Linked DNA regions of Homo sapiens. The protein of the gene in region 1 purifies or fractionates together with the protein of each later gene. This does not show direct contact. Each region holds a gene or a part of one and is shown on either strand. Other genes may lie near its edges. The genes, in order: ADNP2 and ZNF644.

Region 1 (9,990 bases):
ACGTAGCAAATGTTCATTAAATGAACAAAAGATATAAAATAAAACAGGATAAGAACCGTAAGATATGCAGAAAGTGCTAGGAGGTTCTAAAGAGGACATGGCTATGGAAAGCTGGTGCCCAAGACATACAAGGTGAATAAATTAGCATCAAAAAATTATTGAGGTAAAGAAGGAAAAGTCTGAATTTATTTGGCAAAAGTAAAACCAAAAAGGTGGACTGGAATCAAACTGGGAGAGGAGTGGGAGGCAGAAAGGGTTAACATATAATAGGGAGAAATTTTTGGTGGGTAACAAGCAAACACCAAGTTTTTGAGAAGCTGTTTTGAAGCGGATAAATTTCTTTTCAAAGTTATCTATGTGAAAAATGTATCCTGGTCTCAGCAAAAGGAGAGATTTAAGGATCATTAGCATTGTAGAACTGGGAGGATAAAAATTTAAAAATTTTCTTTATAAAATTTTAAGTTTAAAAATTTTCTTTAATAAAATGCACTGATTTGGGTTCTAGCCTTCAAAAGCTTACACTCTCACACAAGAGCTGCCATAACCTCATTATGCATTTCTAAACACTAAGCTCAAGGTCACTTTCTGGCCCAGTCCAGCTTCTTTGGTCAGAGCAAAACTCAACGAAAATTTTGTTAGCTGCTTTCCAGGGACTCTATCAGACTTGATTTCATTTCCTCCTTAAAGTTCCACTATCCTCTCTATCCTCTGGGGTTCTTCTCCAAAAGCTGGCTGACAAACAGTGTTGTCTAAAGTAGGGACCATCATCCATATGTATCTGAAACAGGGAAGCTAAATTTACTGCTTCCAAGAAAATCTCAACTCACACAGCCAGAGCTGATCTTATCACAGAGTTTTGAGAAGCCTGGGATACAAAGACTGGTGGACTTTTAAAAGCAGAGTGATTGGGGATTGGCTGATTCATGTAAGCATGGTTGTACATACATGAACCTCAGAAAGGGGTTACTAAAATGAGGCTCTCAGAGATTGGGCAGGGGTCTGTGGTTACTTGTTCAAGGCTTGGGACTAGGGCCAAGGAGTTGTCACTTTTTTATTTTTTTCCCTTGAATTTGAAAAATAGGAACTTTTTATTCTCAAATGAAAGTGCTTCCATTCCTTCATCGTTATTGTGGCCCTTCTAAACAAAACAAAACACAAGCACACAAATACCTTTTCATTTAAAAAAAGGAGGGGGAAAAGTTCCCCCCTCCTTTTTTTTTTTGTTTAGCAGTTTCCTAACTGCTTTAGGGAAACCAACAAAGGATAAAAAATAAAATGCAAGTAAATTACAGGTTTCATAACTGTTGCCAACCACTTTGGGGATGGGAAGCTGACTTTTACCCATAATTTATCCATTCTAAGCTACCACAATTTATTCATTCTTAGATCCATTCTTATAGCATAATTTATCAATCCTAAGATAAAATATTCCATGTAAAATGCCCAGTGGATGAATTAACTATGAAATAGTTCAATGTTTTCATATTTATAGATCCTCTATAGATACTGTTCTCCATAGAATCTTAGAGCTCAGTAAAATCTGTATTTTCACCATTAGAAAACAGCAGGCTAACCGGGGCGGCCAACTATTTCCACATCATGCACCAACCTATCAATTTCAATTCAAAATAAATCTCAATTCCTAATGTTTAGGGTAGGCATGGAACTACCATAAAATTCCACTGATATGCACAAGAAAATATTATTTCCCAAAAGGGTACATAAAGGACTTCTCTGGGGATTTTTTAGTATAATGATCTCGTAAGGATATTCTATTATAGAAAAAAAAATACATTCTAAAAGAAAATGTTGGCCGGGTGCAACGGCTCACACCTGTAATCCCAGCACTTTGGAAGGCTAAGGCGGGCAGATCACCTGAGGTCAGGAGTTGGAGACCAGCCTGACCAATATGGTGAAACCCTGTCTCTACTAAAAATTACCAAAAAATTGGCTGGGTCCTACTCGGGACGCTGAGGCAGGAGAATCGCTTGAACCCGGGAGACAGAGGTTGCAGTGAGCCGAGATCACACCACTGCACTCCAGCCTGGGCGACAGGGCAAAACTCCGTCTCAAAAAAAAAAAAAAAAAATGTCATTCAGGTAATACAGTAATAAACAATACTTTTTAAGCCACAGAACTTTTTTTTAGTTCCTGTGAAATCGCACAAAACGATGGTCACCAAAAAGGATTCTGGAGTTGTGTGCCCGGGTTTACATCAGCTCCACCATTTATGAGCTGTGTAATCTTCAGGAAATCACTTACTCTCTCCAGGCCTCAGCTGGCTCTTCTGTAAAACAGGGCGAGTATGACCTAATTCACAGAGTAGTTATGAGGATAAATGAGTTAATACATGCAAAACAGCACATAAGCACTGAGTTTGCTATTAATTAACTCCAAAAAACTAAATGAAATGTCCCAACTATTGGAATACAGGACTTTTTAAAAAGCAACTTTAAAAACACAGAATACTTGGATCATATATTCAGCAGATCTGGGTTCAAATCACTGGGAGATACCGGTTTCCACCTATGTAACACATTGCCCTAACAGGTCTAGGATAGCCAGAGGATGAAGGGCAGGGCAGAAACCAAGTTTGCAATATGCTATTGGTGAACTTATGAGGGCAATCATAAATTAACCAACAGCATATTGCAAACTTGGGTTCAAATTAAAAACGTGTCTCCCAAATCCCAGAATCTCTTCAGCTAAAAATCTTAGCATAGCTGTCATCTTCCCCCATAAACAGTGATCAACTCCTTTCAGACATGTCCTAACCCTCACTGTTCCTCCCCTCAACTAGAGGGCCGGTAGGACAACCTCTTGTCTCATCTTCACTCTTGTACTTCCTTTCTTAACACACATCTGTCACTTCATGTTTAAGGACGACGGGCTCAATGCTGTCTTCGCAGTGAAGTCCTAACTCCAACCGAAATTTAACCGAAATATTAATACACACTCATACATGGCCAACTCTCCAAGAACATCTTTAAATAAGTTACACATACATTACCGACTTCCAAATACAGCTGAACATGTACTTTACACAACTCTTTTTACATGTGGTCCTCTCTCCCACTAATGCTCCTCACCCCCAAAAATGGTACCCAGACTCCAAACCCCCTCTTTTGATAAAGGCTCTGCGTGGCAGATGCCCACAGTACTCTACAAACTGCTGCCCCACTTGCCAATCTGCATTGTCAGTTACCTGCTTACCAGTTTCTCCTCCCCCACCCCACTCCTCCACAGCCAGTATATTCCTCAAGATCCCAAGAGGCAGTGATTACCCGTGCAAATAGAGTAAGTTTTAAGCACGCAGGCAAGTCTTCTGTTCAAATAAACTACTTAAAATATCTAATTATTTCTCATTCTGCATCTGTACAGTATTTAAAAGGGCAGTTAAAATTAACATTCCAAAGTCAACTGTAGTAGAAATTTTGTAAACGGAATCTATTTCAATGCAACCAGCAACGGCAGATGAAAAGTAATGTTAAAGTCAACATCTGTATATCAATTATTGATATTCGCATCAAAAGCTCAACGATGAAGAAACAGGGCCCCGTTATCAGCTGTTCTTCAAACCTTTCTAGGGAAAAAAAAACCTGGGCAGATTTAGGTGTCACCGTCAGCTCCTGACCTACATCTGCCGTCACTCAAGGCTCCTCCAGAGAGAAGCTTCCAGGAGAACCCGGTCTCGGGGATGCGGCGGGCGGGCCAGCGGGCGGGGCGTTTCTGGAGTCCTTACAGGGGTCGCCACAGCTCCTTGCCCCCTCTCTTCTTCTCCATCCCCGTTCCCTCTCCCTCTACTCCTCGCTCCCTTCACCAGCCCCCCTCTCTCCCTCGGTCCCCGTCCTCGTCTTTCCCCTATTCCTACTCTCCCCTCAGGTCCCCATCCCCTTCTCCGCCCTCCCGGGGCGGCCCCCGCTCCCACGTGACCGGCGGCGGGCGGGGCGGGCCGCGGGCGCGTCGGGGGTCGACGGGCGCCGTTCGGGCCGCGAACCCGCGCCCTGAGAACGTCCCGGGATTCCCGAGGCGGCCACGGGCGGCGCGAGGGCAGGCGGCGGGCGTGGGTGTGGGCTGGGTACCGGCGGGGGCGGGGCTCGGAGGGGACCAGACTGGGGCGGGGGCCAGGACCGGGGCAGGGGGCGTCGCCGCGCGGGCCCGCGCCGGGCCGGGCCGTACCTACCGCTTGGCGCCCGAGGAGCACCGCGTCTCCGCTGCTGCCTCTCGCAGGGCTGCCGCGTCTTCCGCCGAGCGCAGCCGCGTCCCGTGGGGCCGCCTGCGCCCGCCCGCGCCTCCGCCCCGCGCGGCGGGACCCCCGCCTCAGCGCGCGCCCACCCCCAGCGCGACTGGTCCCCTCCTCCCGCGCAGCCAGAAAGAGAAAATGGCGCTCGATTGGCCTCAGGAAGTGACGTTGGCCCTCATTTGCATGTAGGCGCAGCCAGCCAATGAGAGCAGAGTGTGCTTGGGGGCCCCTGGCACTTCCCACAGGCCCCCCGGGGCCCCTGGCTAAAGATGGACTGGAGGCTCTGGGGTGGCAGTGGGGGGCCCCTGTTGGACCCCCTGACTCCCTTCTGTCCCAGGGAACTGCCCTGCCAGCTCCTTTCCACATCTGTGCAAACTCTCGTGAGAGTTTGAGTGGGCAATGACGTCACTAAAGGGGTGGGGAGAGTGTGTCATCAACCATGTGACTAATCACGTGGACTCACCACAGCTTTGACTTCATTTGCATGGAATGGGGTGGAGCTAGTGGCAGCTCCAGGAGTGGTGACCCCGCCCACATCTCAGAGCCAATGGGAGCCCAACTGTGATAATGCTGCCTTGCCATTGGAAGACAAAACTTTGGCTCCCAGAACTGGGACAAGTGTGCCATGATTGGCATATCCTGGTGAACCGACTAGCTGGGGTCTCCTGACTTCATCATTCCTGTGGGAAAGTGATCACACCTTCTCTTGAGAATTCTGATTTTTAGATCTACTACAAGTTGTGTGGGGAGAGGGTTAATTGCATACATTTGTATAAACTCTTAACCTAAAAGTTCATTTTTGCACAGGTGTTTATCAATTGTGTAGCAATAATAATTTATTCCACAAAATTAGTGGAAACATGGCGTAGGGCTTTCAAAATGGCTCTAGGTCTTCGTTCCGTGGAGTCCCCAGGCCTCTGGCGGACGCCCTCGTGCCCCAGAGCACGTGGGAGTAACCACGAGGGCAGCGCAGGCGCCTCCCCCAGTGCCCCTAACCTTAACCCTAATTCTGACCCTGCACCTGAACCTCACCTAGCACTAACCCTGACTCTGACCCTAACTCCCCTCCAGTGTTCCTTCCCCTGACCCTAACTCAGCCGCGCCCTCAGTGGCTGTTCCAGGCAGTTCCTTCTTGGCGAAGCCGTCTGCAGGACACGTGCCCCTTTCAGCACAAGGCCACGTCTCCTTCCAGAGCGCCGAGCCCCTGCAACCCGCCGCCAGCCTCCAGCCCTGAGGCCCACTCCAGCCACCGCGGGGCAGAGGCCGTGCCCAGGCTGGGCCTTCCGCCCACCGCCCTCTCCAGAGCCTCCTTGTCACCATCCGCTCGTCCATAATTTCAGCTTTTCCCTCTCAATGGGAGCCTTCTGCTCAGTTTAGCCCAGTGACTAAACACATAATAGGCACTAAATTAATGTCCATATTCGTTTTAAAACTGTGTTAAATGGTGGGCCGATATGACCTGACCAAAATTTGCTTTTTTCCTACATGAATACAAGTCATAATTGAAGTAGAGTTTGCCCTTTATGTTTGCTGACAAGTTAAGATTTTACTTTGAGTTACAGTGGTAAATGGGTGTGATGTCCCTATATATCTTCCTTGCAAAATTATGGGTGGGATGAAAAGTGTAGTTAAAGCCTGCAGTCTCCCATTGATCCTCTAGTGACCTCTCATTTTATCACATTTCTCAAAACAGCAGTCCCTGTGTCTGTCTCCTCAGCCCCCTGCACGCCTCTCGCCCCCACCCTCACCACTCTGCAGAAACGCCTTGGTCACCAGCGCCCTCCTAATTGCTGAGCCCAAAACAGATTTTAGGCCTCGTCTTTCTGTATCTATCTTCCATTTGTTACTACAGACCAATCCCCCTTTCCTACAGACCTCCCGCAACAAAGCCGCCCCACCACCACTACTCCTCAAACGGGCTCTTTAATCTCCAAACTCGGGAACTGTTTCCTAATCTACAGACCTCCCCCCACAAAGCCGCCCCCCCCCACACCCACTACTCCCCAGACGGGCTCTTTCATCTCCATATTCACGAACTGTTTCCTCATCTTCGCCTGCATCTCTTCCCGGCCCATCCTTGAACGCGGTGTTCTCTGGGATCCTGCTGACTTTTTCCTTCACGGTGCAGCACATATGCGCCACTCGCTTCCTGTGTGCCAGGCACCGTGCTGGGTATTGGAACTCCCACGCCTTTCATTTTTTTCTGCATTTTCTCCCTTGTTAATTTCGACCACAGATTCAAACCTTGTTATGTCAATTCCAAACCAGTATCTCCATCTCTTTCCTACGTTTCAGTTTTATTTTTCTGGCTGCCAAAGGGGGCAGCTCCACTTCAGAGTCCCACAGGCAACTCAGATTCAAAACGTTCAAATCTGAGCCCATCATTCTCTCCTCAACAGCCTCTCCTACAGCAAGCAGTGTGTTCCCCATCTCCAGTTTTCCAATTTTATATCCCAAATATTCGTCAGATCTCTTCCCTCATCTGCAGCCGCACTATCACTACCTGCATTCAGGTCATCTCCTGCCTGTAACACCTGCACAGGCTCCCACCACCTTACCTCCAGCTTGGTGCCTCAGGTACTTTCCCCAGTCAGCCCTTTTAGAGAGTGAACCTGACTGTCCTTCCCTTCTTGCTGCAATCACTCAAAATCCCCCAGGAATCAAGCCCAGCTGGTGAGCACGACACACAAATTCTCCAAAGCTGACCAGTCAGTCCCCAGCCTGTAAACACCACACGGTGTTTGTTCATGGGACTCCTGTCCCAACCCCTGAGCTAATTTTCATTCCATTGCCATTCAAGGCTGAACTCTACCGGCCTCTCTCCCAGAAAGATCTCCCTGAACACACACACACACACACACACACACACACACACAGTCAAAATATGGTAGGTACTTCTTGACATTCCCAAAACATTGTGTGTGTCTCCTGCTGCCCTCACCACGTTGTTTACTGTTATCTGCTCACTGCTTGTCTCTCTATGGGGCACCAGTAAGGACCGTGTCTCATTCATCATTGTATCCCTGATGCCTACATTACTTTAATAAATACAATATCAACATTTTCATAAATACAAATCTAATAAATATAATAAAATTTAAATGTTGAATGATTTTCCCCCTGCATTTTGCTATGAAAATGTTGAATGTACTGAAAAGCTGAAATAATTGTTCAGAAAACAACCATCACCTAGCTCTTCCAGTTAACATTTGCTTACTTGCTTTATCGCATATGTATTCAAATATTCATCTCGACTGTTTTTTTTTTTAGAAAACATCAGTACACCATCCTTAAACACTTCAGCATGGATATCTGATGAATACAGTTTAAAACCACCATCCACAGCATTGAGATAAAAAGGACTGTCCCTCCCACCACAGAAGGAATGAGCAATGTGACCTGGGGACTTGTCAAGATTATTTTCATAGACTCAGGAAAGTGCACCACACTGAAGTCATCAAACCGAAGACACAGGTTGGGCCTCAGGACTTATCTACCAGGCGAGTCACAGCTCATGCAGGTTTATTCTGCACACCCGCTCCTGAATAACAAGAAGACCACAGACTTGGTGGCAGTATGAGTAGATTCCTCGACCCCGGTTGTTCAGCTAGGTTTGAAAGTGAAGATGGCCCATGTGGAAGCTTCCCACTCTCTCATCTAGGTCCCCCTATAACCAGCATCGGCATTTGTAAGATAGTTGTTCAGAACAAAGGGAGCCCCAGAGTTGACTGTGGCAGCCACAGGCACTGTTGTGTGAATTAGAAAAGCAGGGGCCCTCTGGGTGTGTTGCTGTCCTCCGGGACCTGGATGGTCAAGATGAAGGTGCCTTGATATGTTTTTCAGTATCACTTCCTCTGCCTCTGTGCAGACCCAGCCTCACAGCAGGGCACAGACCTATGTGAACAGAGCGAGCTGGATTTCAGCTCCCACTTCCCGCTCTGCTCACTCTGTGTAAAGACAAGTGTGAACAACTGTAGTCAGCAGCCCGACTGGTCTACGCACAGACGACTGTGCACATGCAAGTGTACAATCCAAGAAACTGCAGAGTTCATCTAAAACCAGTGAGCCACAGGAGAGGAGAGCTTGGAGAACAACTTACATGTACTCTTTCTCTACTTTGTTTTTTGAGGTTTCTTTTTTTCTCTTAGAGACAGGGTCATACTCTTAGAGGCAGGCTGCAGTGATAGGATCATAGTTCATTGCAGCCTCGACCTCCTGGGCTCAAGGGATCCCCCCACCTCTGCCTCTCAAGTAGCTGGGACTACAGGTGTGGACCACCATGACTGGCTAAGTTCTTCGGTTTTGTTAGAGAAAGGATCTCTCACTATGTTATCCAGACTGGTCTCAAACTCCTGGACTCAAGAAATCCTCCCGCCTCAGTTTCACAAAGTGCTGGAATGAGAGGCGTAAACCACTGCACCAGGTTATTTCTCCCCTTTATTCTGCATACGCTCTGTGTAGGTCCAGCAGGCACCAATAATACAGTGCTGAGCAGACTCCATCCCTGCTCTCCTGGAGCTTAAGCTAATGGAGGAGAAAGGCATCCGCGAAATAACTACATGATGAAAATATAATTATAAACCTTGGTCAATGCTCCTGAGAAAGGAAATCTCCATATATGCCTGTGACCCAGAAACCTGATGTAGACCAGCAGTCTCCAAGAAGCAGGGTCTGGGATCAGAGGATAAGTAAACACTGGCAAAGCAGAGCTGTGAGAGGCGGAGAAGAGAGGTCTGTGAGAGGCCCCAAAGAAGGCCTGCGCCTGAGGGAGCCTGGCACAGCCAGACCAGAGCAGTCAAAGTGCAGGCCACAGGAAGACGAGGATCACAGGGGAGGCCAGGGCCAGGCTAGGAAGCCATTTGGGTCTTATTAAGACCAAGGAGAAGCCAAGGAAGTGGTTTCAGTGACCGGGTTGATAAGATCACATCTGCATTTGAAACGTACAGCAGGGCTTGTCCTGCGGAGAAAGGAATGTTGATTGAGGAAGGGAAGATGAGGCTTAAGAGGAGGTTGTGGGAGCAGTCCTGGTGAAAAACGATGACAGCTGGGAACTTAAATGAGGGTGATGGCAGTGAAGATGAAAAGAAGTGGCCAGCCTTGAGAGAAACTTCGGAGGGGAGGGAACCTGCAGTTGTTGGCATGGAGAGCTGGAGGCAGGCCCCAGAGGTGGGCGCTTGTTTTTGTGGATTTACTGGCTTTGGAAATATGCTTGGCTTTCTCTAGTTGGTCCTGAATTGGAAGTGGAAACAATAAAAGCATGGAAAACTGGCAGTCATTGACTAAGTCCTGGCCATTCTGGTCTGATTGCTGCAGAGGCATAGGTCAGAGATCGTCTTACACGGTCAGACCATTGTCTGTTGGCACATTCAGTTTGGTCTCCCTTCCCCTTTTGGTCATTCTCTCATTGGAGAGTTTGGACAGCTCAGGGGAGGCTAGAGATCCAGATCTTCACAGCTTGGGGGTTGTCTGGTTGCCTCCATAGGCAATCATTTCATGAGAATTCTTTTATTTGTGTTGTTGTAGCATCATGGAGATCATCTGATGACAGAGCAGCTGCACAGAAGCATTGCAGACTCTGCAGAGGATGCAACCAACAGCATCATGACCACTGTGACAAAACAAGACTAATAGTTCTCATAAGATGCTTCTGAACTGGGAACACCAGTTTCCCATCCCAGGACAAGAGAACAAATCCCATAAGCCGTGAGGATCAGCCTTAAAGAGATAAATAGTTTTTTCCTTATGGC
Region 2 (10,701 bases), on another chromosome or scaffold:
ATCCTTGCCAGAAGAAAATGGCACTCTTTCTTGCAGATGGATTCAGCCCTGCACTAGGGGGCATGAGCTGGTGAGTAAGGAACAGGTTGAGTTTCAGCCTCCATTCACCTACTTGTCATCTTTGTACCGTGTACAAACTCCACAACTGTACATAGTGACCCTGTAGATTTTTCTCTGTAGTATCTACAGTGACTATTATAAAGCCCAACACATATTAAGTAAATATTTAGAAAACAGTCCATAAAAGTAAAAGCTTAGACTAGAGACTCCAATAATGGGTTACTTAGTACCATATGTATTCTAGATTGTTAGCTATGGCCATATTGGTGCCTGGCAATAAAATGGTGCTGCCATGTGGAATGCAGTTGTTTCCAGCAGGAGGCTCATCAGTAGCCACAGCAGATGGCTTGCCAAATCAGAGAGGGAATGAGGTAGCTAATAGGACCTGTTCCTAAGTACAAATGCCCCCTTAAGAGACTTTGCAGGCATTTTAAGCGTCCTGCAGTAAAAAGGGATGACAAAACCCAGTGAAATCTGGGTTACTTTATTTTTTATTTTTTGAGATGGAGTCTCACTCTGTTGCCCAGGCTGGAGTACAGTGGTGCAATCTCAGCTCATTGCAACCTCCACCTTCCGGGTTCAAGTGAGTCTCCTGCCTCAGCCTCCTGAGTAGCTGGGATTACAGGCGCCTGCTACCACACCTGGCTAATTTTTGTATTTTAGTAGAGAAAGGGTTTCACCATGTTGTCCAGGCTGGTCTCGAACTCCTGACCTCAGGTGCTCTGCCCGCCTCGGCCTCCCACAGTGCTGGGATTACAGGCGTGAGCCACTGCACACAGCCAAGTCTGGGTTACTTTAGAAGCTAAGAATACATCTGTGGATGAACTATCCTCCAGTGTCCTGTATCCCTTGGGAACTTAGCTCAATTACGACAGCCTGATCAGAATATGAATTGAGGAAAATAAAGCTTGACATAGTTTTTGAACTTAGGCTGTGTACGTAATGATGTAGTGGGGCAACTACTAAGTTGATGAAAGTCAATTTACCAAAACAGAAGTAAGGGAGTTTAAAAAAAGTCATGCAATTATCACATTCCACTAGATTCTAAGATACCACTGAAAGGTGTGCCCTTATTTTATGAACCCCTACGAAAGAAAAAACTGGTAATTACAAATTATGATTGTAAGACACAATTTGAAATGTTACAACATTTTTAAAAAAAGTAATAGAATTGATGAAATACGGATTATAAATACTTCATCTTCTTGTGGTTTGTATGTTATATATCTTAAAAGAAAGATTTTAACTCTTAAAAGAGTTATTGTCCTGGTGAAAGCAGACTAAACCGTCCAAGTTCCCTTGACAGGTACATCATCATGGCAGAGTGCAATTTGCTATCAAAGTTTCATGATACCATCTGCTGAGATCATATTCATCTAATTCTATGCTCATCAAGCAAGTAAATTGGTGTTCCTAGCATCCTTCTCTACAGAGAGGGAATGTGCTGACCAGTCTGCTTAGGTATTCCATTATGATTGGCAGTCAAAAATTTTACTGTAAATTAATATATCAGCGTTTGATTTACTTATTAATCTCTTACGCATTTCATCTATCTGCGCTTGATCAACTCTGGTTCAACTGATTCTCAACCTGCAAAGCTAAGAGCCAAACTCCAGAGGAAAATGATACCACAGCATTATCATCACTAGGTGAAGCACCAATTGAACAATGAGCTGATCTCTTTCTTTGTCAACTTTAACACGCAAGTTGCACATGCACATGAACATGCAACTTTTGATCCATTCCACCACAAAATATTTGAGAGCTGAGTGTGTTCTATTTACCTTCACATCCTCCAGGGGGCATGCATAATGATATGCTGAGTAGAATAGCAAATGTGTTTCTGAATATTAGATATAATTTTCATTAAATATGTGTATACTAAATCTATTTTGTACTATGTTTTATGAGCCTTTGTTTTTAACTGAGATTTGGAGAACTTTATTATCTATTCCTTATGTCCTCCATTCCCTGGTAAATTGAGAGTTGATTGTACCTTTTTGTCTAGCTCTTTCTTTGAAGTATAAAAGCACTGCATTCATTCAACAGTATTTATTGAATAGCTTCAAGGAACTGTCTTATTCATTTTTTTCTGACAGTGCCTAGTACAGTACCTTGCATAGAGTAAACAATCCACGAATGTTGGTTGAACTGAACGGAATTATTTATCGCATACCTGCTATGTGTAAAGCTCTGTGCTCAGGTCAGCGTGGAACAAAAATAAATACAAAACTTGGTTTCTGTTTACATCATCTCTCTTTCTACTCCACACATCCTCCCTACCCCCACTCCAATGAACAAACATACTGAACTATTTGCAGTTCCACAAGAGTGACTTGCTTTACAGTTTTGGTATTAAGAGGTTGATCCAGAACTAGTGGGATACTGAGCAAAATCCAAACTTGATTTGACTTTATTACTAGTAGATTAATGTTTCATTTCTTTCTTTTTGCTTGGAATTATAAAGCATTGGAATGAGGAGAATTATTTGTTTTTATCCAACACTGAACTGCATTTTCTTTTTGAGCAAGTCATTTGAGACCACAACTTACTTTATTTATTTATTTATTTTTGAGACGCAGTCTTGCTCTGTCACCCAGGCTGGAGTACAGTGGCGGGATCTCGGCTCACTGCAATCTCCGCCCCCCGGGTTCACGCCATTCTCCTGCCTCAGCCTCCTGAGTAGCTGGGACTACAGGCGTCCGCCACCACGCCCGGCTAATTTCTTGTATTTTTAGTAGAGACAGGGTTTCACTGTGTTAGCCAGGGTGGTCTCGATCTCCTGACCTCGTGATCTGCCTGCCTTGGCCTCCCAAAGTGCTGGGATTACAGGCATGAGCCACCGTGCCTGGCCACTTTATGTTTTTTATCAGGTAATTCCATTCACTGATAATCTGGTAATCACTAATGGATTCATACACTGTGTTAATATGGTCAGATTTTAACATATTAACAGTAGCCACATTATTAAAAAGTCAAAAAATAACATGCTGGTGAGGTTGCAGAGAAAAGAGAACACTAATATGCTGTTGGTGGGAGTGTAAATTGGTTCAACTGTTGTGAAAAGCAGTGTGGCAATTTCTCAAAGAGTTGAAAACAGAACTACCATTCAACCCAGCAATCCTATTGCTAGGTATATACCCAAAGGAATATAAATCATTCTACCATAAAGACACATGCATGTGTATGCTCACTGAAGTATCCCTCACAATAGCCAAGACTTGGAATTAACCTAAATGCCCATTAGTGGTAGACTGGATAAAGAAAATGTGGTATATATATACCTTGGAATACTATGCAGCCATAAAAAGAATGAGATCATGTCCTTTGCAGGAACTTGGATGGAGCTGGAGGCCATTATTCTTAGCAAACTAATTCAGGAATAGAAAACCAAAGGCTGCATGTTCTCACTTATAAGTGGGAGCAAAATGATGAGAACACAGGGACACAAGGGAGGGAACAACACACACTAGGGCCCACCTGAGGGTGGATGGTGGGAGGAGGGAGAGGATCAGAAAAAAATAACTACTGGGTACTAGGCTAAGTACCTGAGTCATGAGATAATCTGTACAAAACCCCAGTGACATGAGTTTACCTATATAACAAACCTGCATATGTACTCCTGAACCTAAAATAAAAGTTTAAAAACAACAACAGCAACAAAAACCAGCATCTTGCTTTTTATTTCTTTAAAACATTTACCAGGTGTATTCATTGGAGCATCATTTTATTCACAATGTGTTATGAATTTTCTCCCAAACTGTTTTCCACATCTTGACTTTCATTCTCAACTGTGATTTCCTTAAATATTTTGGCACTGAGCCACATAACTTGTCTTTGGATTTTTTCAGTTGCCTGTATGTTTTTTTCTGTCCATAAGTTTATTGTCTTTATCTGAAAAATCCTCATAGAAAATTGTTTGGTTTAGCTCTCAGCAGCCCGCTCCTGAGCTCTGAGGAAGCTTGCCTTCTTTTGAGCTACCCAATCTTTCTTCTGAGCAAGGGACATTTTGGGTCGGTTCCACTTCTTCTTTTTAACTTCTTTCTTGGGCTTCTTTTCACAGACTGGACTCTCTCGTATAGCAGCATGAGCTTTCTTACACATCTCTTCCATCATGTCTGGAGTTACACTGTTCTTCATGTATTGAGAGAACTGTTTCTTGTAACCATCTTCATCTTCTTCCATTAAGTAGCACATGTAATCTGCAACATTGTGGCCCATGATGTGCTTCCTGTGTACTTCTGCATTAAATTTCTTGCTTTCAGAATCATAACCAGGGAATCATTTAGTACTGTGAGGGACAGACAAGCCCCCATGCACAGCTCCCTTCAGAGTGCCAAAAACTTTACTGCCAGTAGTAGTTCTGGCAAGGCCTGCATCCTAATTGCAGGTAAAGGCACCTGGCTGACCATCAATGCTTACCACATTGTAGTCATCGCCAGTTGCCTCCACTTGGCCTTCATAGATCTTGTCCATGTCAAACCTATTGAGAAGCCTGCGGTCCAGCAGCAGGCCAGTACAATACGCTGCAGCATAATTTGTCAGGTCAACCTTCACACCATATTTTGGCAGTTCGTGTACATATGCTGTGCAGACTATCATATCCCCCTCTGTACGGGCATAAGCAATCTGACAAATGATACTCTGTTTGTTCCACGAACTATCATCCTGTATTTGGGTATGTTGTATTCATTTTTATCCTGTATCACCAAGTGTTTCTGAGCATAGTAATCAGTTTTACCCTCTCGTCGTCTTCTAAATTTCACTTGATATCTCTTAAAGTAGGCCTTATTCTTAATAACTTTTACAAACCCCATCCTGCAGAACAGAGACCCACGTCTGCGGCTAGACAGAGAACTCACGTGTATTTTTTTTTCTTTTCGCATTACCTTATTCAAGCTTTCTGTCATTATATTTTCTGCCATTCATAGAAGCTTTTGAGATCCATTTTGTACAGCGTTTCATCAACTATTACTACTTCTACTATTATAATTACTATGATTACTTTTACTGCTATTATGACTTCCACAGTATTACAATTCAGTTGCTGAGTTCTAGTGTAAAAAACAGCTTCATTAGTGAGACAAGTTCCTGATCATGGCTGAGTTCTGAATGATTCTATTTGCTTGTGTGATTTGTCTGCACATTAGTCAGTGGTATACATTAATGACAGTTATTTTCTTAGTAACTGCTTTTACAGTGATATAATGTAAGAATTTCCATAGTACATAATATTTTGTAGTAAGTCCAATAGTAAACTGAGAATGTCCAATTTTAATGGATTCTGCAAACGAAATGATCCAAAGAGCACCCCTCCCCCATTGACTGCAAATATATACGTATTTATATTTTATTGTTTACACATTTGTGTAAATGAAGACAGGAGATTTGCATTTTAAAGAGCCCAAAGAACTGTATGACTTCGAGAAAATCACCTTACTCCTCTTTGTCTCATTGGGTTACAATGAAATCGAGCAAGTTAGAACAATGCCTGGTACACAGTAAGCACTCAAAAGTGTTAGCTATTAAGTAATGAAGCAATTAATGTGTTTAGTCAAATATTTGTTGTTTGGAATCTACGTTTGCTGTTGCTGAAGGCATCATTCCATAGGAAAGAGAATGTTTCTCATTCTTGTCAAATAAATGCAGTTATGGTATATTCTTCCGAATGTCAATAACATCTTGAGGGTTTGGAGGGCCACAGTAATGACAGCTGTACAACTAAGGAAAACTTTTTTATTTTTAAATTTTTAAATGAGTAAACAGAGGTTCAGAGAAGCCAAATAATTAAGGCGGGACCAGTAGATTTCTCAAGAACTCTTGGTTAATCTTAAACATGTTAGCAGTTTCTCGTTGGCTCAGTCGAAAAACAAAAGAATAGCCCACTCAGTGTTTCTCTGCCCCAGGATCCTGTGGTGAAGTCTTGTTAAAAATGAAAATTTCCAGAACCCTCTAGGGACTGATTCTCTGAAGGGTTAACCAGCATCTCACATGCTTCTTATATAACTTTAATTCGTAGAACCACGACACTTTCAGTAATGCAGGGAGAGAGTATCCTCAGAGAGTCAAACTGGAGCAAACCTCGGCCACCTTTCAGGGCAGGCTGTCCGGGTAACTGAGATGTCACACTTGATGCTTTGCCTGGCCATCAAGCAACTCCCAACAATCTGCCCCCTTAAGATCCTAAAACCTTCCCTCTGCCATTACTCCACAGTTGTGATTGGCAAATATTGCTGTTTTCCTCAACAAGAGGAAAATAACAGAGATTTTTGCACGCTCGTGATCGTGGAACTCAAACCTGGGCCTGTTCCACCTTAAAGGGCCTAGGCATGCCTAGTGCTTGGGTCTTGCAGAGTTTGGGCACCACCATATTTGGAGCGTGCCTACTTTGGGGCGGGAACCTCCTTGGGAGTGATTAGGTCAGCGCTGGGGGAGGTGACCTTGTTTGGTTTCTGGCACCCGAGAACAGTGGTGCACTGTTTCCGCTGCCCTCGTTTGTCTAATTGGCCCAGACGCTCCACCAGCGCGAAGCTTCCCGGGAGCTCCTCGCTGGCCACCCCCGCGGCCCGCAGCCCGGCAGAGGCGGGAAAGCAGCGCGCCTGCGCCGTGGGAACCGGGGCTGGAGGCGAAAAGCGGGGAGCGGAGGGGGGCCGCTGGAGCCGAGTAGCGTACAGAGCGGCGTGTGACGCGGGGACGCCGCGTGCTCCCAACGTCGCCCCGGTTTGACGCACACGGCACCAAACTGTGAGTTTCAGGGGTTATTTGGTCAGATTCGCTGGGACCCGAGTGGGTTTCGGGCCTCTGGGCTGTGGCAGCGGCGGGACTGAGGGTGGCGGAAGAACTTGGGGGACCCGGCCTCCGGCTCTCGGGCCCGGGGAGCTACGCCCTAGGCTGGGTCCCAGCCATCCAAAAGGACGCATTTTGCCGCACAGGCTAAGATGGCGGCGGCGGCCGAGGAGGCGGAGTTGGTGCTACACAAGGAGCCCGGGCCCCGGGTTCGGGGAGGCGGCGGCCGCGGCGGTCGCTGGGGGCCACGGAGCCTGAGGTGAGCGGCGGCCGCCGCCGCGGGGCGGGACTCGGCGGGGGGATGGGGGGGGGGCTTTCCGCTGCGGCGTCGGAGGATCCGGTAGCGGACACAAAGGGGCTGAGCTGGGCACTAGACTTGGGGGTTTTGTTTAGTCACATGAAGCCGAGCAGCCAGTGAGCAGTAGGGGGAAGGGGCCGAGATCAGGCGGCTTGGGGAGCCTGGCGGTCGCCATTGCAATGCACTGAGTAACGGGGCGGGCCGAGAGCAGTCACCAACCCCTCTCGTTGAGGCTGCTCGGTTGTGGCCAGAAACGCTGGCTCTGGCATTAACTGTCTACACCCCTCCCCTTACTTGGGACAGGACCGCATAGCCCTCCCCTCCCCCCGTCCTGCAAGATCTTATGCGGCTAGGTGCCTGGGAAGTAACAGCAAGAGGTAAATCGCTCGAAGTGTTTGGGTTGCCAGGGGCTTGGTGGGTGTCCAGCTAAAGCTTTTTGCCTCTCCAGGTCTGATTCTCTGGCCTTTGTGTCCCTGGGAAGTTACTCTGCCAGAGGAAAGCAGGTGTGCTCCACTTCTCCCGTGAACCTGAAGATGAGTTGTCCCAGACTCTTCTCAGTGATTGGAAACTTAGGTGGTGGAGCTAAAGGTTACTTGTTACGAGACTTCTACAGACAACTCTTGTTGGGATCCATCTATGGTTTAGCAACATTAGTGGAAAAGTTTTCTTGAATATTGACTTTGAATATAAAAACGTTTATATTTAGACTTCAGATTTTGTGTGATCATCAAACTCAACGAGGGGATAAACATAATTGGGGGCGAATGATGGTCTTGTCTTGTTAATAATTTCAACAGAAGTATCACAACACCGCCGACTATCCTGTCCAGTCCTAATTCCACGCTTGTTGCATCTGGATGGTAGATTTGTTTTAATTGTGTATTCCCTCCCTGCAGTAGTTTGCTTTAGTTGTAAACATTTTTTGGTCCCATGAGAAGGAAAACATTTCAAAAAATAGACAACTAAAGTTTCTCAAAGAAAGGAAACCTGGCTGTTTGCCTTCAGTTGCATGTGTAAGTATCTAGGGAACTTGATGGCAGTAATATTGCATTTTGGTAGGCTTGCTAAGAAAAACCTCGTTTTTATAATAAGGCTATAATCTAGCTTAGACATTTTAATTGGTGAAGCATAAAGCTTGATTAGTATTAATGCAGTGGTATGTATTGCTTTTAAAAGTCTTACAATTTCTAACAAATTAAAGTTATACTGCAATTATATCATACTTTGTGTTGGTATTAACTCATGAAGTACAAAATTTTGAAACACCTAATGTTTTGTGTTGGCAATTAACAGAATTCCTTGGTTGGAGGGATATTTAAACACATTAGATCACTGTGTAGATCTCTGTGTTCAAACTGAAATTTGAATTTTTCAACATTAGTTAACTTTCATTTCCTTGTTCTTTTCAGATATATATTTTCTCTTTTTTTAGCTTCTAATACAGAACAGTCTTGTATTAATGAATAGGAGATGCATTAACATTAGCAAATGTATTCCTGGATCATAAAGTTTTACAGTGGAAGCAATATCAAAGAACAACTGCTCTTACCCTCCTCTTTTACAATATATTGAGGACCAGAGATGATTAAGTTAGTGGCATAATGGAAAATTGCCTTTCAGCCTCTACCCATTGCTGTTTGTATTTGTCATATTGCTGGGATGAGAAGGTGAATATCTACAACTAATGGTTAAAAAAACAAGGGAATGTTATTGAGAATACTTGTTAATTAAATATTGTTAGGTTCATGAGAACTTCTGTGACAATAAGTTAAAAACTTTCATATTGGCCTGGCACGGTGGCTCACGCCTGTAATCCCAGCACTTTGGGAGGCTGAGGCGAGCAGATCACGAGGTCAAGAGATCGAGACCATCCTGGCTAACATGGTGAAACCCCGTCTCTACTAAAAATGTAAAAATTTCCTGGGCGTGGTGGTGCCTATAGTCCCACCTACTCGGGAGGCTGAGGCAGGAGAATCACTTGAACCCGGAAGGCAGAGGTTGCAGAGAGCTGAGATCGTGGCACTGCACTCCAGTCTGGTGACACAGCAAGACTACATCTCAAAACAAAAAAACAAAAAAACTTTCATATTCTGTGGTTAACTTGGTTTTTAAAGTGACTTTCAGTGAAACAAAATCAGGTACAAAATACAGAAATATCAGATAGTTTCAGAGCAATGTTGCTTTTGAATTTTAAGGTTTTCCAAATGCAGTCTTGACCCAGAAATTGAAAAATTAAAAAACAACAACCAGGGACTTGATAAATTTCTTTGAAAGTTTGAAATAACTGCTGTTATTGCCAGTTATTATGTAGGAAAAGAAATGAGATCAATGCTGAAAATAATGGTGTCTTTCATTTTGTAATAGTGTTTTGGTTGGATAAACGAATGTGCCACTCAGAATGTTCCCTTTCTTTAAAACAACTTTTTAAGACTACTACTTCTACTGAGTGGTACCTCTAAGGTCTGTTAGGAAATTGAACAAGTAGTGACAGTCATTTATGGTGGAACCCTATAGTGATTTTTAACTTCTTTGAATGTCAGATTTAGCAAAAAGTTAAATTGTTTTAAGGTTTTAAAAGTTTTTATGGGTCATATAAGGTGCTTTTAAATTACTGATTTTTGTTAGTTGATAAGCTGTTTTATAATTTTCAACATTATGTGAGTGGATTTACTTACACTTTCATTTTGTGAAAATTAGAGTCACTTTCAGGTTATTTGTAGTTATAAAGTGGTCTGTCACCTGCCAACCTTAAACATTTTCCAGTTTTAGTTTGTCATTCAAGTTATAAGAGTGTTTTGGTTGAATTGAGACTGTTAATGGGTAGCAGGAGGAGAAAAGAAAGTTTCAAAGAGAATAGAAGTGGTGGGATATCTGCAATCTAGAGAAAGGTCAGGTCCATTTTTTTTCTGTCATCCTAAATATTGTTTTTTAGTGTTACTTATTTAGACCATTTTCTCAGGATGTGATTCTGGAAGGAAAAGTGAATCTTATTCTTGGGAAGGCTTTTCAGTCAGGTCTTAAGACAATTGTAGCTTGCAGCAAATGGAGAAATTGGCATGTTGAGTTATCTAACCCTGATTTTATAGAGCACTTGTTTTAACCATTTTTTAAACTGTTTTCTAAATGTTTTAAATTAGTAACCTTGTAAAATAAAACGAGAATGAAGAGTGGATACTGTAATACTATGGATACATATTCAAATGAGCTTTTATTTACACTTATTAATCTTTCTGGTAGAGAGAATGTCTATTTCGTATATGGAGAATCTGTAAATATTGAGTAAAGTTGTCAGGTATAGCATTGACTGAAGCAGTTCTAGAAGTGGTGTTTTTGATTCAGGTTTATTAGAGGGAAATAAATAGCTGCTGTTAATAGTGCAAGCCGTTTACACCATTGAGTTTTGGGAGATTTGAGAATCATGGAACTGATGCTAGCACTAGCTCACCCTGCTGGTTGGCTAAAAGATTTCTCCTCTTCCCCTTAAGAAACAAACATGAAGATCACAGGAGACCCAGAGGGTAGTAAGACTCTAAATTAAATTCTGTCTTTCTTCAGGG

The links.
Region 2: the proteins of ADNP2 (region 1) and ZNF644 purify together in Homo sapiens (affinity purification with mass spectrometry; 2 studies listed by BioGRID and IntAct, with this or other methods). This does not show direct contact.

The regions. Positions count from the first base shown.
Region 1 is NC_000018.10:80,103,666-80,113,655, reverse strand, and holds the start of ADNP2 (activity-dependent neuroprotector homeobox protein 2), read right to left. Parts: upstream 4,395-9,990; 5' UTR 4,184-4,394; intron 3,766-4,183; exon of another isoform or gene 3,635-3,765; intron 1-3,634. UniProt on the Homo sapiens protein: May be involved in transcriptional regulation. May play a role in neuronal function; perhaps involved in protection of brain tissues from oxidative stress. May be involved in erythroid differentiation.
Region 2 is NC_000001.11:91,018,093-91,028,793, reverse strand, and holds the start of ZNF644 (zinc finger protein 644), read left to right. Parts: upstream 1-6,758; 5' UTR 6,759-6,804; exon of another isoform or gene 6,805-7,105; intron 7,106-7,310; exon of another isoform or gene 7,311-8,811; intron 8,812-10,701.